Regions from separate parts of the Homo sapiens genome. Here region 2 is linked to region 1. A link means that fine-mapping ties the variant in region 1 to the expression of a gene that starts in the linked region. Tissue or cell type: tibial nerve. Region 1 holds a variant in brackets; the other region holds the start of a gene. All regions are shown on one strand. Distances are from middle to middle.

Region 1 (8,261 bases):
GGTCTGGCCTGCAGCTCTTCAGGGTGGGGCAGGAGAAGGGTGGCACACACCTTGGGCCTGGAGAAACTCCAGCGTGGCTCAGCATGGATGGCACAAGGTGACTTCTGCGAGGCCTCCAGGAGCGGATGACCTGCAAGCCGAGCCACTACAGCCATTCCCAGACCACCATCGCCAAGGTGACCTGCCCTGCGAGGAGGTTGTATCTCAAGAGAAGACCTGTGAGGTCTGCTGACATAATTCCAGACGGGTTATGCAGACTGATCCCCGAGGGCACGGCGGGCACCTGGGCCACCCCACCACCTTCCGAGGCAGAAGGCAGCACGTCCATCCTGACTGCCTGGAACCATCTGATTTGTTTGCCAGCACCCAACACCTTCACGGTTCTCCCCCCACGTTCTCAAGAAGCCGTCACTGAAATAGTCGGCCTGTGTGTGCGGTGGCTCTGCAGAGGGATACCCAAGTATAGCCCCGCCTTCTGCAGGCCTATGGTTTCACATGGCCCTGGGGTCAAAACCCCTATTTTTTGTTTCACATAAATTCAAGTTCATGAATTAACAGATGACTGCAAAGTTCCTGGTTCATCTCCTTGTTCTTGCCAGTCTTCTTTTATCTGCTTTGCATCTGTTTCATCCTCCTCCGTTTCTCCTCCCTCCCTCTTTAATTGTTATTTTCCCCATTTTTCCTCTTCTCTTCCTCCTGTCCTCTGTTCTTCCCTCTTGTTCTCTTTATCCCTGTCTTTCCCTCCCCTTGGTTTGGTTTTCATCATTGGCCTCTCCCCAACACTCCCACCCTCCCACCTCTTCCGGATGTTCCACCCTGGCTTTCTGTCTCCTTACCCCTGAACCCAACATTCTCAGCTCAGAAGCCTGGGCCTGCTGCCTGGACCCAGTGATGAGAATCCTTATCTGAGGATAGGGAACTGCAGCCTCTGTACAAAACAGCTGTAAGTGGTTCTCTACCTAGGAATGGCTCTGCCCAATTTCGAGGTATCTTTGCAGAATCAGAGCCTAACATGTGCTGAATCCAGAGTAGTTGCTAGAAGAAAACCTGATTTACTTCTTCCTCTCTTAAATAGCAGAGTCTGAGCTATGTTTGTCCTCAGACCTGAAGGAAATAGCATCCTGGATGGGGCAATGGGCTCCGGTCGTCTCACGGTTCTCCCAGGCTTCAGTTTAGCAGTGTCGAGCATGGGGGTTGTCCAGAGGTCAATGCCTTCATACTTGTGCTTTGTTTTTTGTGTTTTCCTCATCCTCCCTGCCCCCTCCCCCTCATCTCCCCTGCTCTCTCCTCCTTCCCCAAGTACCCAGTGCCCCTAGGCGTTTCCGAGTCCGGCAGCCCAACCTGGAGACAATCAACCTGGAATGGGATCATCCTGAGCATCCAAATGGGATCATGATTGGATACACTCTCAAATATGTGGCCTGTACGTTCTGCCCTTCCCTTTCTCTTAGATAATCTGGGAACCAGAAACCCCATTCTCACCACTTTTCCTAAGGACTCAAGGTAGAAAGCCTGTGGGTGCAGATGGCATTGTGGAGGGATGGAGGGGCCAACGAAACAGTTCCCAATAGGATTAGGGGAGGCAGATGGGACTCAATCCCTGCTCTCCTTTCATAGTTCTGCCTGCAGGGAGCTTCTAGTCTCACTGATGAGACAAAGGGACCTCCAGTCTAATGAAGCAGACAGCCATGCCTTTAGGGATCTTTTGTAGTCTCCAACACGTACAGAGTCTAGGAGAGAGAGTTCCTCAAGCTCTGGAGCTTCCACCTGATGGGGTAGATAGTATACTCACAGGAGTCCACAGTCAGGACACCCCTTGACAAGATGTCATTTATGATAAGGCAGCTGCATGTAGAGCTGCCCGGTGACTGTGGGGTGACCCGAATCAGGAGCCTGGGTTGGAAAGACCCCACCTCAAGAGCTCAGCATCACCATGCAGGGACAGGAGTGCCATTACATTTGAAACACTTTAGGCCTTCAAAAGTAGGTAACGTACCTCGTTAGGAAACTCAAAGAGCCAAATGTTGTGTTGTTAGCAATTTTAATAGCCAACTCTGTGCTTGTATGCTGTTCTGAATTGATCTCTGGACCAGACCCTTTCACCCTTTGAGGTCCATTGAATAGGCACTTTACAAAGGAGGCATTAAGAATCAAAAGGCCTAGTGGCGTTGTCCTAGTTCTGTTTGAAAGGAAGAAAGAAAGTGAAGAGTTTTGTCCTTGTTGAAAGGGCTTAAGAATATAAACGGAATCTTTCTGAATCAGCCACATAACTCTGCAGTGAGCTAGAGACAACAGGATCAGTGAAGAAGGATTAACCCTGGGTGTAATCAAAGAGCCCGGAGGGAGTTCTTGCCGAGTGTTCTGCCTTTGAACCAAGCCTTTAAGATCACCAGGCAGGTGCCATCATTTCCCTTTCCAGCAAAGTCAGGAAAGTGTTCTTCCTCCAGCTTGCAGATTATATAACCCATCAATAAATGTTGCTAAAGTTTAATTCCACTTACCTCTCTCTCCCCAGTTAACGGGACCAAAGTAGGAAAGCAGATAGTGGAAAACTTCTCTCCCAATCAGACCAAGTTCACGGTGCAAAGAACGGACCCCGTGTCACGCTACCGCTTTACCCTCAGCGCCAGGACGCAGGTGGGCTCTGGGGAAGCCGTCACAGAGGAGTCACCAGCACCCCCGAATGAAGGTAGGTGCATGGCAGCAGCCCCTGGGGTAAAAGGTCCCAGCTAATTCCGAGGCCTAGAGAAACACTGAGATCTGTAGCTGGCTGCCTGGGATGGAGAGGAAATGAGACTTGCAAGTCCTCAAGCCCTCGGAAGGTGAGAACCCATCTTATGTGTGAGAGGTAGGTGCTGGCATTGTATCTGGAGCTCAGCTCTCCTTGGACCACTGTGGTCACACCTGGGTCCCCACTTGCCCTGACTTGCTCAGTCACTTGACATCTATCATCTTTCCTTCTTGTAGAGGAATAAGGAAGAGAGCATGAGTTGAGAAATGAGAGAAATCATAATGAACTCCAAAGAACAGTGAGTGTTCACCTCTTGAGGGAGGCAGGAATATGATTGTGAGTGCTCCCATGAGGGCTCTGGGGACAACCTTCTTTCTTCGAAGGCACATGGGTTCAAGGAGGTAGGGGAAACCGTCAGGATGACGCTGTTACTGGCATCATGAGTAGAGCAGAGAATGTGGTCCTTCCTTGCAGCCTGAATTGGATGCGTTGTCAGGCTGCAGAGAGGAGGAGGAGTTAGGAAACAGCCATTTGCCAAGCCAGCTTCACAAAGAGCAAATGAGTTCATCACCTGGGTCCAGGCGTCATCTGGCAGCATTTCAGCCCCACCAGAGCTGCACCTGCCTGAGGACTCCACTAGAGGGGGCTCCAGGCTCACCCGCACACGCACTGGCATCAGGGGAATGTGCAGTCTGGGACCTCTCGAGGAGGCAAGGCTGCAAAAGCCTCAATACTGGCACACCCTCTGGGAAAGGCTGGGGACCCCCGTGTGTCTCCAGAGATACAATGGTCTATTCAACAGCCATTTCTTGAGTACCCACAATGTGAGGTGCCAGACACTGCCACACACAAGGGATATACAAAGGTAACAAGAAGCTCACACCATCTAGAGGGGGAGTCATCTATAAGAATATCTAATTGCATGTCTAAATGAGGGGGCGCAGTGGCTGGGCAGAGAAGGGGATTCAGTCTTCACGGGAAGACTCCAGAGAAGAGGTGATGTGAGTGGGCACTCTGGAAGCTGACAAGTCATCGTGTCTGGTGCTTTCCACAGAAGGGTCAGGTCCCGTGGCCTGGCCCAGGCCCAGACGGGGTCTTCTGAATACCACCCCTACCCGCATTCCAGGAGAGCATCAGTGCTGCCTTCTCTGGGGCTACCAGGCCCGCTGCGTCACCCCGGGATCCCAGGCAGCTTCACAAGCTGCCCACATCCTTCCCCAGCCCACCACTCTAGCCAGTAGACCAGCGCTGAGGCAGGAGAAGAGGGGCCAGGCAGAAGCAGAGAAAGGCTGACAGCCCGCTCTGCATCCCTCTCTGGTCTCAGAAACCAGGAGTGAGTCACACAACCAGCTCTCCCTCCTGCTGTGCTCTTCTGCACTCTCCCAAGCCCCTGGGCACTCGGGAAGTTTATTAGGGCAGGGGGACTTAGGTTAGTGGCTGATGTGTGTCTGTCACCAAAGGCCAGGCCAGGCCAGGCCATGATGCACTTTCTTGATTACTCAATTCTGCAAATAGATAGATAAAGAGAGCCCCTTCTTCCCTCCCTATGTGCACCCCAATACAGAACATCAGATAACAAAG[C/T]CCTATTGTCCAGCCCCAGTAACCACCACAGAGAATGTTCTGCAGCCCCAGGGGACAAAAGGACAAATAGAGGCTTTTTTCTTAACTTAGGGCTTTGCAGAAAATTCAAGAATTTCACTTAGGGCTCTCAGTCCAAAAAAAAAAAAAAAAGAAAAAGAAAGAAAAAAGAAAGGGCTCTCAGTCCAAACTTGGGTTTCTAACTTCATAAAGTCCAACTGGAGGGGAAGAATTGGAGTGACGGAATACCAGGAGAGGGGCTCCAGGCTCCATCCTTCAAAGTTCCCGCCTTCCAAGGTTGCGATGGTGTGGAGTGGGTGCAGCTGAACATGCTCCCTCTCTCCTATCCATCCCACTATTCAGCATCTTCCCCCAAAGACAGGAACCATCCTTTTGACTGGAGTTGGTGTCCTCCCACACCACCTACTCCTTATCCCCTCAATTCCTGGCATCATGGAGCGTCACCCAGCCTGCTCAAAGGTCATGCCAACCTAGCCAGAGCAGGACATGCTGTTGAGGACAGAGCTGGGAACATAATGCTCTGAGTGGACTGTCCCTGCAGCCACCTTTTAGATGTCCAGTCCTTGAATCGAGGTAGAAACAGTGTGTTAGAAAGGTCTCCAAGGCCCAGGTGGAAAGGTTTCTGTAGGAACATGCCTGACTCAGGTGGAGTTGACCGTGAACCCTGAATGCCAGTTGGCATCCTCAGGCCAGCAGCCAGCACCTGGCCACGCCGTCTGCATAAGGTTTGGGCTGGAACCTTCCCTGCTTTCCTTGTCCTGTGGTCTCACTTGTGCTCTGTTTTCTCTTCCCTTTTCCATCCTTTCTCCCTCTGTCTGGCCATCTTGGGCGCTGTGTTCTGAAGCTACTCCAACCGCAGGTACCGTACCAGCCGCGGAGGTAATGGGCATGGCATGGGGCAGCGCAGGCGGAGCCCAGCCCAGCCAGGGCGGACAAGGAGGGAGAGGCTCAGGCTGAAAGCATGCTCCAGACTCACCCTTTCAGTGGTTGGGAAGCCAGACTGTCAAGAGGGATGTGTGTGGAGGATGGGACCAGAGGAGAGCAAGCCCACTTTCCCCCCTTCCCAAACTATTTGCCCCCTGCTGAGTAGGAGAATGGCTCAGCAGGGGTCACACACACACCGGCCCTGACCTGCTCTCTGGAGCTGCAGTTTCATTCTGACACTGAGTAGATTACTTCCCGTTAACCACCTGAGTCCTTGCCTGGGCTTGACAGCTCAGAGCAGTGTCCCCAGCTGTGGCCCTAGAAGGCGCGCTGCAGCAGGAGCAGGGACAGCTGGCTCCTGGTGGGGCTGCCATCTCCTGAAAGGGTGAACATGCTGTGCATGCCAGCTTCGCATGCTGCATGGGGGCCCGGCACCGGCTCTGCCAGCCACCACGGGCTCTGCTCAGTGAGAACAAGCAAGCATGTCCATGGATAGGGCCAGGTGCTCCAGTTCCTGGAGTCTCAGCAGGCACCGTGGGCTGATTATCTCCTCACCCTTCAGAAACCCAGCTTTTCCAAGTCTTTATCGTTAAGAACAGTCTCCACTCTCGGGGTATGGGAGGTAGATCTACAGTGGACTAAGGTGCTGGGCAGCTCTGGGCTTAGGACCTGCTAATCAAGTTACTCCTCTCCAGTCCTCATGTCATGGGTTTGAGGGTCATCAAAGGGCTCTTCATCACAGTTGGCCTGTCCCCAGGCTGGAGAAACGAGGCAGGGGACCCCAGGGTTCCTTTCCAGGCCCTCCTCTGAGCCTGAATTACATCAGATGGGAAATGAGAACAGGATTCACCCTGGCAGAGCAAAGGCTACAAGCAAGTGCTCAGCAGAGCCTCCTTACATGCCAGGCAGTGGAGGGAGGGCTGAGGACCGGGCCAGGAATCTGAGGGTTGGCTTATGAAGGGGATGCCACCTTGCCCAATTCGATTTCCTCCTCGCCTTTGCTTATTCATCCCCACCCCCATCCTAGGTTGATTCTATTTCTGTTGCATACCCTGCTTCCTTCAGTTTGTGTATGTTTTGCGGCCAGATCTGTGGATGGTGAGCTGCCATCATCCTTCCCTCTCTCCCTCAGTCCTCAACATTCACCCACCACCCCAGTGCCTCCCCACAAGGTCTGAACACCCCTGTGAAGATGTGAGGCAGAGAGGTGATCCCAGGCCTGGGGAACAGGGTGAGAGCCATCCTTGCCACACTGGGGGCCTCCCTGACTTCCTGCTTGAAGTTTACGTAAGTCTCTCCCGTGACGAAGAGGAAACGCAGGGAGGGCACCAGGCGAATCAGCTGCAAGCTCAATGGGGAAGCAGCTCCCCGTCCACCTCCCCTGTTCTGGCACCCTGGGACCCAAGGCAGGTGGGCCTGGTGGCAGGCAGTCTGTCTTGTTCAGTGGGCATCTGTGCCGGCCTGTGCTGTCCCTCTACTGAGTGGGTGAGAGGTATCTTTGCAATCACCCCACTTCCTACTTCCCATTTAGAAAAGATCTACACTCATCCAGCATGAGCTCACGGTCTCAATCAAATGTTTCCTGGGCTCCAGCTTCCGTGTGACATGGCAGTGGAGGCAGATTGCACTTTTTTGGAAATGAGATGTGCTGATAACATCAGCTGTTCTCAGCTTTAAATGCGTAAGAACCTTCTGCACAATGAGCAGGTGCCAAGCAACGAAACTCGGGTTCCATGTTTCTGACGTGGGCCTGGCGTCCGGCCCACTGCTGTCTTCCCTCTCGTCCTCTCCAAACCTGGGCACTATTTCCCCAAACTGCCCTGTTCATCTCTCACCCAGTGAAGATAATCCCTCTCATCCACCTGTATCTGTAGTCTCTTAGGATTGCTGCCCGTCTGTCTGACAATCTGTGATTTGGCCGGGGTAGTCAACACGCCATGTGGACATTTTTGGACTAAACCTTCCACCTTGGAATGTAAGGAAGTGCTGTTCTCTTCTTTGACCCAGCTCAGGTCTGCAAATGTTTGGTGGGCTCTTGATAGGTGCCCTGTTCCGTGGCAGGTTCTGGGACAGAAAGATGAATGACACATGTCATCTCTCCTCAGTGTTCTCCATCTCATGCATGGTGCTCCCTGAAACCCACCTGGAAAACCCTTGGCCGCAGCCAGGGTGCCTTCCAGTGTGCATTAGGTCACAAACCTGTGAGGTTGACGCTGCCATCTAGGAAGGGCCTTGTGCTTCCAGCCGAAGCCCACTCAGGATCCCCCCTTAGCTAACAGAGAGTCTCTGCCCGCTGTCCTTGGTCGCCAGGCTGATGGTCTCCACTGAGCACTGGCCAGGATTGCTTCCAAACCTGTAGCTCCTATTGCGGCAGGAAATGACATCCTAGCCCAGTCATGTGTCTGCCCAGCCTGGTGCTGCTCTGTTGGTAAGCCCTACTTCTCAGCTTCGTTGCTCTTCTATCCTCTCCTCCACCTCAGCCCCAGGGGATGAAATAATCTGAATCTCCTTAGACCTGAGCAGTGGAAGGTTTTCCCCATGGAACACTTGTCCTCCTCTCGTTCCCACCTGTACTAGCCCCCTGACAGCTCACTGCCTGACTCTTCTGCACCTTCCCTCGGAGGCTTTTCTTCTTTCCTCCACCCTCCCTAGCTCTCTGGAGGCCCTGTCTTGCCTTGGGACAATAGACACAGCTAATGAGTGGGTCGGAGATGTGCCAGCAGTGACCTTAGCCAGCTGAGGTTGTATCCTCTATGGTAACTTCAATGGTGGGAGCCCCGGGGAGGCTGCCGGAAAGTGACCCCTTTCCTCTCTCTCATCTCTTGCTCCCTCTTACTAAGCCTGAGCCAGACAGGAAGCAGCTAGGTAGCCATCATCAGAGAAAAATGCTTCCTTTCTGCCACACTTGGCAGAAGTGGCCATCAGGGGAGGGGACAATGCAGTGTAGAAACATCTTCAGAGCCATCTCTCATCCTTACCTCTGCCCAGCAGGGCCGGTGAGGAAAAT
Region 2 (8,000 bases), 52 kb after region 1:
CCCACTTCCAGGGTCACAGCTGCCCCCAAGACTGTTCTGTCATATCCTCTGGATGGCATGGCTTTTACCGGGACCAAAAGATGTCCCCACCAGGAACGTCCTCCTTAAACCCAGATGACCTGGGGCAGTCAAGGACAGAGCTCCAGGCAGGGAACCCACGCACCCAGTCCTAGCCCAGCCCCACCTCCACTGCTCTGTGACCTTGGCCCAATCATTTCACCTTTCTGGCTTTGCTTTCTTTGTGACTCAATCCCTCTCTACTGTCCTGCCCTCCTGCCCTCCCACCTTCCACACCAGCCAAATTGTTTCATAAAAAAAGAACTCAGGGTTCTTTGAGCTCTTTGGAGAGACCACATAAATGCAGGGCATTATTAGCATCATTACTATTAAATATTAATAATGACATTAGCATCATCTATTATAAGCCTGAAAAAGGAGCTGCAAGAGCCCTGGGTTGAAATGGCAAAGAGAATAATTAGGCCCCTCCAGGCCACAGACCCCTCTGGGCCCTCACATGAAATTAGGAAGGCAAATGCAGACAGGGCATTGAGATCTTCCTTCCAGCACCCCTGCTAGGTCAACTTGGCTTCTCCAGGCATTACACAAATCATGGCCTTCCCAGGCCCCACATCTTGGCTCCTGCCACACCACATGCCCCCATGCCAGAAACACATTCCCCACCTCCTCTCTGTCCATCCAGGCTCAATTCAAGATGCACCCACCCACCCCCACTGAAAGCTTCACCCACATCCTACCTCCCTCTCTCCTCATCCTCTGAATGGTTACTATAGCTACTCTCCTTCATTCATTCACCCAGTCAACAAATATTTATTGAGTCTCCACCATGCACCAGGCACTGTGCTAAACAGGAGGGTGGGGGACTGGGAGAATACGGACTGATGAGATAATCCCTACCTTTTGGACTGCATAGCTGAGGGAATGGCCATCAGTATTTGATATGGCACTTTGCAATTCAAAGTGCTTTTAAAAACCATTATGTTTAATTCACATATCCTCACTACCATCCTAGATAGGAGTAGGATCATTCCTATTTTACTGGTGAAGAAATGGATTATCTGGGCGATTAAGTGTCATTCTGTTACTTGCCCAGAGTCATCCAGGTAGGAGTGACAGAGCTGGGACAGAGTCCAGTTCTCTTGACTACAAATCCAGAGCCACCCCAACCACTTGCAGCCCTTACTGCTCTGCCTCATATCCTTGTTTTACAGATGAGGGAGGCTAAATCCCAAAAGGGAAATACTGACATTTATTGAGCACCTGCTGTGCTAGCTACTTCACGTGTAACTCAACACTCACATCAACTCAGTGAGGTATGTGTCTTCATCCCCATATTCTGGGTGAAGAGGTATGTGGCTTGCCCATGGCCTCACATCTCCTCAGTAGCAGGACTGGGTGTCAAACGGGTCTGTCTGCAGAGCTTTTCCTTATGGCCATATCAGTTTTCCCCAGAGCTGTGGATGGACAGTCCTGTTACCACTGTCACACTGCTTCCAAAAAGGTCACTGGCACTTTGAAGACCGCATCCCCTGGCTCTTGGATCCCTACATTCCAGGCAGAGGAGCTGCTCCATAAATACATGGCCTCCTGGGAAAAGGGTCTGGGCAAAGATGCTGGTGGCGGGAGAGGCCAGGAAAGGAGAGGTGAGGCGGGGGAGTGGTGAGGAAAGAGACAGCAAAGCTGCAGCATCCTGGGGCCATGGCAGGGTCTCATCTCCTCCCCACTTGTCCCCAGGGATGGGGCCTAGAGGTCCCTTCTTGATCGGTTAGAGACCCACTGGATTCCATTGCTATCAATCTTGTGTGGCTACAGTAGGAAGAAGCAGATGGTCTGGGCAGGGTTGGGTGGCCCTCAAAATGCTTTCTGATCCCCACCCACCACCACCAAGGGAGCACCACATGTTTGCGGACAAATTTATAAGCCATTTGACTAGCCACCTGATTATCTTCACTGGCCCTTTCTTGCCCTGTTTGAAAGTCTGTGGGGACTCAACTTTGAGATGTGGAGTCCCAGCTCTGGACAACATGGAGTCATATTGATCAGCCACAGAAAGGAGAGGTGGCCCTTATGGTCAGCTGCACTGAAGATTGTGGGCTCTGGATGTCACCAAAGAAGAAGAAACTGTTCTGCCCCCTATTTTGCCCACCTCAAAAGAACAGACAGTAGGTAGCTGGAGTCCATGGCACGGTGGCTAAGCCAGGATGCTGGAGGCCGATCCCAGGCCTCACTCTGTCATCTAGGCTGGAGTGCAGTGGCACGATCACAGCTCACTGCAGGCTTAACCTCCCAGGCTCAGGTGATCTTTCTACCTCAGCCTCCTAGGTAGCTGGGACTACAGGTGTGCACTGCCACACTGGCTAATTTTTGTGTGTTTTTTGTTGAGACGGGGTTTCGCCACGTTGCCCAGGGTTCCACTTGTTTACTATTTCTTTTGAGCAAGTTCCTTACTCTTACTGAGCAACATCTGAAAAGTGAGGATAATAACAACATGGACCTCTTGCGCAAGTAATTCAGGTAAAGCATTTAGCACAGCTCCCGGCATGTGGGAGGCATTCAAAACAGATATTATTTCTGTTATTATCAAGCTAATGGGCCCCACAAGCAAAACTCAGCCTGCACCCCCAAATGCCCACCCCACTCTCTCCTCAGGAACAGGAGCATCTCAGAGACTGGGAGTGCAGATCCCCCTAATCTCCCCAAACTCATTCATACTAGACTTCACTGAGAGCTTCAGACAAGTGAGAAGATGAGACTTTGGGAACTGTCTCCCCATCCAAGTCTAGGCTTGGCAAATGTTCTTGTTTTCACTTATTGTGTCTGCCAGAGTCCACATGGAGCATGCTGGTTGCATTGAGATCTGAGAGTCTTTAAGACCCAAGTCACCTGTGCTAACGACCCTCCCCAGAGACCCAGCTCCCACCACAGGGCAGCAGCTGTCCTAAAATAGAGTCACAAAGACAGCTGTCTCCGTCTAAAGCAATCCTTGCAAGCATTTCCAGACTGTTGGTTCCTGGGCCAGCCTATTTCCTGGCCCGTCAGCCCCCTGCAGCAGACATAGCATCCTTTTCTTGGCAAGGACTTGTTCCTGCCGTTTTCTGCTAGGAGAGAACTTGCAGAGCCTCTCTTTGGAGCCCAGGCTGACTTGAATGGTGCCAAAGAGCAAGGTTCACCTCAGGAGCTCAGAGCCAATGTGCCAGCCCTCAGACATACAGATAGGCAAGGACAGTGTGGGCAGGGGAAGGAAGGGAAAGATATCCTGGCAAGGGGTTGATGTGTCTGTCTATATAACAGCATTCAACATTATTTAAGAAACATCATTAGCAAAATCCAAGTCCTCCCCATCAGGAACAAAGAAGACTATCTCTCAAGTTGGGCAAGCCCTTTGGAGGGGCTCAGAAGGAAAGGAGGGGAGCGCATGTGGGACCTGGGCAGACATTCCAGCCTTGGAGGCTGAGCAGCAGAACCTCCCCGACTCCTTCTCCTTTTCCAGACCCTCTCATTCTGGCCCAGGTCCCCAGGACCTCCTCCACTCAGGGAGACATGGAGCCATGATCCAGGCTTGACAGGTATAGCCATTTAAAACTGGGAGGCTGGCCTGGCCCTGCCAGCTGTTGCAGCATCTGGACTGCTCACCGGTCTTGCCTGTGCAAGCTGGACAGCAGGCAGATCAGAGGGGGGTGAGACAACAGTGACAGCCTGACAGGGCCGACTGGTGCCGCAGATGGCTGGTCCCTCCGCCTCCGGGCCACAGCCTTCCTGGGCACTCCCCCACGTGACCGGAGCAGGGCAGGAGAAAGGCATCGCTGACAAGGGTGAGCACTTAGAATCTCAGAGCTGGCAGGACTGTGTCCATCTTTAATCCCTTCAGGTACCAGCGAGGCTCAGAGAGGGCAGGGCACCTAGCCAAGCACACACAGCCAGTCGGTTGTGGAGCCCAGAGTATGCTTCAGACACCCAGACCCCTAATCCAGGGAGCTTTTCATGACATCACACTGCTGGTTGCTTAAAAATGGGATTGGATCCAAACGTACTGATGCGTAAAAGTGTCCAAGATCAGTTACACAGTTAAAAGTCTTTGGCCAATCCTACTGTTTTATGTAATCACATTTGTGTGAAATAACCCTACTAACCCATGTAATTGTATACACGAAAATAATAAACCTGGGGGCATGTACTTAGATTTATTAAGAGTAGTGGTTGAGGGACTTTCACTATGTATTTTTAAATGTCCTCTAATATTTAGATATTTTGACAAAAAGCTCAAACTACTTTTGAACAAGGGAAACAATAAAGAGGAACATGGGGTGGACCGGGCAACAGAGACAGCCCCTCCCTGCCACTTGCCCCACACAGCAAGCTGGGATTTCTGATTTGGATCTCTTCCTCGGATAGGGGATTTCTGGGGAAACCAGGAGTTTTGGCTCCATGGGTCTCCAGGGTTTGAGGAGTAAGAGCCACTTTCTTTTCCCTCTTCACCCCGCCCCTCTCCTGCCCCTTCAGCCCTGGGCAGGGGGACTAGAAGTGGGGCTGGGCAGGATCGGGAGGGCAGGCGGGCCAGACAGCGCCCCGCGGCCTGTCCATGAGCGGCCCATGCATTATGGAAGACGCGCGCTGGGCTCGCTCCCTGGTCCTTAAATGACAGCAAATGAGGTAAAGCCAGGAGGGTGGGGACGGAAGTGGGGTGGGAGGGGGGCAGAAGGAAGCCATCTCCAGGGCCCCCGAGCGTTGGCTGAGGACCAGAGCCAGCCAGTGAGCGGAGCCTGGGAGAGGGAGGAGCACATCTTGATGCAGAGATGCTGCAGTGGCTCCGGGCGCGCTCACACACACGCGCCCTCACCCGCCACCGCCGCCGCGGCCGCCGCCGCACCCGGACAGCGAGCGGCTGAGGCCGCCAGGGCCCAAAGGACAGCGGCCCAGACAGGGGCTGGCGGCCCGGCCGGCCCCGGCTCACCGACTCGGGCAGCATCCACCTGCCCCAGCCAACACCCTTCTCTCGCCCCAGGTAGGTGCCAACCGCTTTTGTCTCCTCCAACCCAGGGACTTCCCTGCGTGCTGTTATGGGCCGGGGCTCCCGGCTCAGTTCCTGTAAATATCCCCCTTGTAACTTGGGAGGGAACAGGGACAGGAACACTGGCAGGCTGGGGCCGTTCTGACTTCTCCCCTCAGCCCCAGGGTGGGTGCTGGGGCTCCCCTCCGCCCTGTCTACGTGGGCGGCATCCCGCAGGGCTCTCTCAGGCCGAGCCTGGCCGAAAAGCTGGACCCCAGGAGTGTGTCCAGGAATTCCAGTTGGCCAGCGGGCAGTGGCAGCTGCCTGTGGAGAGGGCAGTTTCTCCTGGGCCGGCCCTGGGCACCCGGTCCAGGACAGGACCAGTCCATACAGCCAGGCCCTGGGCCCTGGCCTGCCCCAGAAGTCCCTGCATGGAATTGAGCCGGAGTCCCCAGTTTTGAGGTCACCCAGGGTCTACCTCTGCAGGGTGACCTCTTTGCAAAGTCTTGCTTCAGCTGGATGGAGAGGGGGGCTGTGGAAGAGAGAGGGGAGAGTGGAGCACAAGTTTGGGCAAGGGCCTGTCCAGGAACTGGGACTCGGGGAGGAGAGTCCTGAGGCCAGTCACATCCCAAAGGGCGAGAGGCTGGGGCTACCGGGCTGAAATTCCTTTCCTTCCCTTCCCCCTCCCAACCTTAGCTTCTCCTCAAATCCCTCCCCCCCATCCTCACTGGTGGGAGGGAAGAATTTGCACAAAGTTTGGCTTTCCAGTAAGGAAAGGGGCTGGGGCCAGAATGGTATGGGGAAGGGAAGGGGCAGAGCTGGGGAGTTCTGGAAAGAGAGGGCAATCCTTCTGCCCAGCACCGTGGGGCTTACATAATGGGCTGGAGGTGGGGGGCAGCCCCAGCCAGTGAGTGTCCAGAGCTGAATCCTGTCACCTTCTCCAAGAGGGTCTCTCAGGTCTGGGAAGCAGCGGGGCATGGAGAAGGCAGTGCCTATGGAAGGGGAGAATCCTGCTGCTACTTGGGGATGGAGACGGGCACCCTCTAGCCCCAGACCCCTGGGGGTTGAGCCTGTGTCCTGGGGGGGGGGGTCCAGTGAGGCCAGGAGGGAGTGGGGTTGTGCATGCCATGGCCCCAGCCCTGGAGAAAGGTGGGTTTCAGCATCTTTTCCCTCTGCTCAGAAGGAGCTGGGAGGAGGAACAGCCCAAGAAACCCAGTGCACAGGTGATGTTCTGGTCTCGTCTGGGCAACAGTTTCGGCCTCCTCTCCCAACCGTCTGGCCAAAGACGCCTCAGCTCACTTAGCCTCCGAGTCTCTCTACCTCCTGGTCCCACTCAGAGGGGCCGGATGAGCCACTGGAGATCGAGTGCAGCAAAAGGTGGGCCACCTGTGGGAGAGGCTGCTGTGATCGCACCTGGACAGGGAGATGGCCTGGAGGTCACAACAGGTGCCCTCACTCCTGGCCTTGGGAGAAGGGAGCTCTCCCCTTAAAGACAGCAGCATCCAAGCCCCTCCCCAGGGTGCCCACCAGTTAACCCCTTTCTAGCCAAGCTGCAGAACCATGGACAGGGCTTTTGCCACAAGGTCAGAGTCCTTCCTAATCTCCCGTGGAAGTCCTCAGCGAATAAGAGGGAGGCAGGAGGTGAGACAGACAGGAAAGGGCCCCTGACCTGATGATGTCAAAGTCACCCAAGGTCCACCTGCCTCACAGGTGCAGAGACCACTGTGCTCACACCATGAGCGGTGAGGGAAGCAGAGGCACACTCCTTATGCAGATGAGTGCCTCAGACTCCAGGAGTCTGCTCTCATTCCCGGCTCTTTCTCTCTTACTCTCCTCCCTTCCTCTACTCCTTCTTTCCTCGCACTCCCTTCTCTCATCGCGTGTACTCCACCGGCTTCAGCCCTCAGCCTCCCGCCGCCACCATTTCCCCTGCCAGATTTCACTCCTTATGCAACTCCATTCCAGCACCTTCTCTGCCAGCAGTTGTTCAAATAGAGACACATGTGGGATGGGCCTCCGAGGAATTGTGCTTAACGGGGTGATTGCACATCTCGTCTCTGGCTGACCAAACTTACTCCTTAGGAGCATGTACATAGACAGGTGTACCCCAAGGCATCCTTTCTGCCTCTAAAGTCACCAGGGAAGCAACGCATTTGGGGTGGTTTGGAGGATGCATGGTGCCCTCTTCAGAAACCTCCTTGAGCCAAACGTTGGTGAGAAAGCGTATTTCAAAGACAATCTCTAAGCCTGAGTGTGGGTGGTATTTGTATTTTTGGAGGGATTCCTAGGGCAGAACCAGGGGGTTGGAGAAGAGGTGATTGATATGCAGGGGAGGAAGAACCAGAGCAAAGAATATGCCAGGGAAGCCAGAGGGACTTAAGTTAGACTGCAGGAGACACTTCCTGGCTAGAAGAGTGAGCCATGAGGAGGTGGGGCAGTCTCCTTTCAGATGACTCTAAGGATGGTGTGGAGAACTGGGGTCTGGTCCAAGGTTAGAGAGTCCTGCCTAGAGGCAAAGGTTGGGCTGGCTGACCCTGTAAATTTCTTCCAACTTCTAGTAATCCTCTTTCAAATGGTAAAAGGTGGATGTGACTCAGGAATCCATAAGAAGGCAGACATCCTTTTCATCCCCTCATGCATGCTGGCCACCCCCTCATCCTTCAGGACTACAACCCCAATCTAAACAAACCACCCAGAGGCTGTTGCTAACCTGGAACATTTATGGGAGTTTCTGTGGGCTCCGTATCCTGACGGTAACCATCCTAGAGTAAGTCCTTTCTTAGTTTGATGATTCCTTGCTACAAGATTAGCCCATGTTTCTTTGTTTACCAAAGAGAATGCAAACAAAAGCAAGGAGTGTGATATTCTCATCCAAAACCTGAACACCTCCCATCCCAGGACACACTCAGGCCCAAACGCATCTCAGTGTCCTTTTTACCTAATGAGACATTCAGTTCACTACGTAGGTGGGGAAGTCAACCCCAGCCCCTCACAC

Direction of the effects. Positions count from the first base shown, and alleles are read on the strand shown. Sizes are in standard deviations (SD) of each study's normalised expression.
For the expression in tibial nerve of the gene that starts at base 4,838 in region 2, T is the low allele of the variant in region 1 and C is the other (moderate effect, 0.75 SD a copy in GTEx).

Evidence for each region. PIP is the estimated chance that this variant, and not a neighbour inherited with it, causes the effect.
Region 2: CNTN2 starts here. The variant in region 1 is fine-mapped to the expression of CNTN2 in tibial nerve (GTEx, PIP above 0.99). The same link has a PIP of 0.9 or more in esophagus muscle, gastroesophageal junction, sigmoid colon and transverse colon.

The regions. Positions count from the first base shown.
Region 1 is chr1:204,986,118-204,994,378 of GRCh38, forward strand. NFASC (neurofascin) reads left to right here. Exons shown (of 30, transcript NM_001005388.3): 22 at 1,301-1,423; 23 at 2,516-2,689; 24 at 5,175-5,189. Among named protein-coding and RNA genes, the nearest start is that of CNTN2, 53 kb to the right of the region's middle. RefSeq lists an enhancer at 3,518-3,607. The variant C/T (reference allele first, on the strand shown) is at 4,313.
Region 2 is chr1:205,038,375-205,046,374 of GRCh38, forward strand. CNTN2 (contactin 2) reads left to right here and starts at 4,838. Exons shown (of 23, transcript NM_005076.5): 1 at 4,838-5,020. RefSeq lists enhancers at 4,532-4,676, 4,624-4,768 and cis regulatory regions at 4,604, 4,696.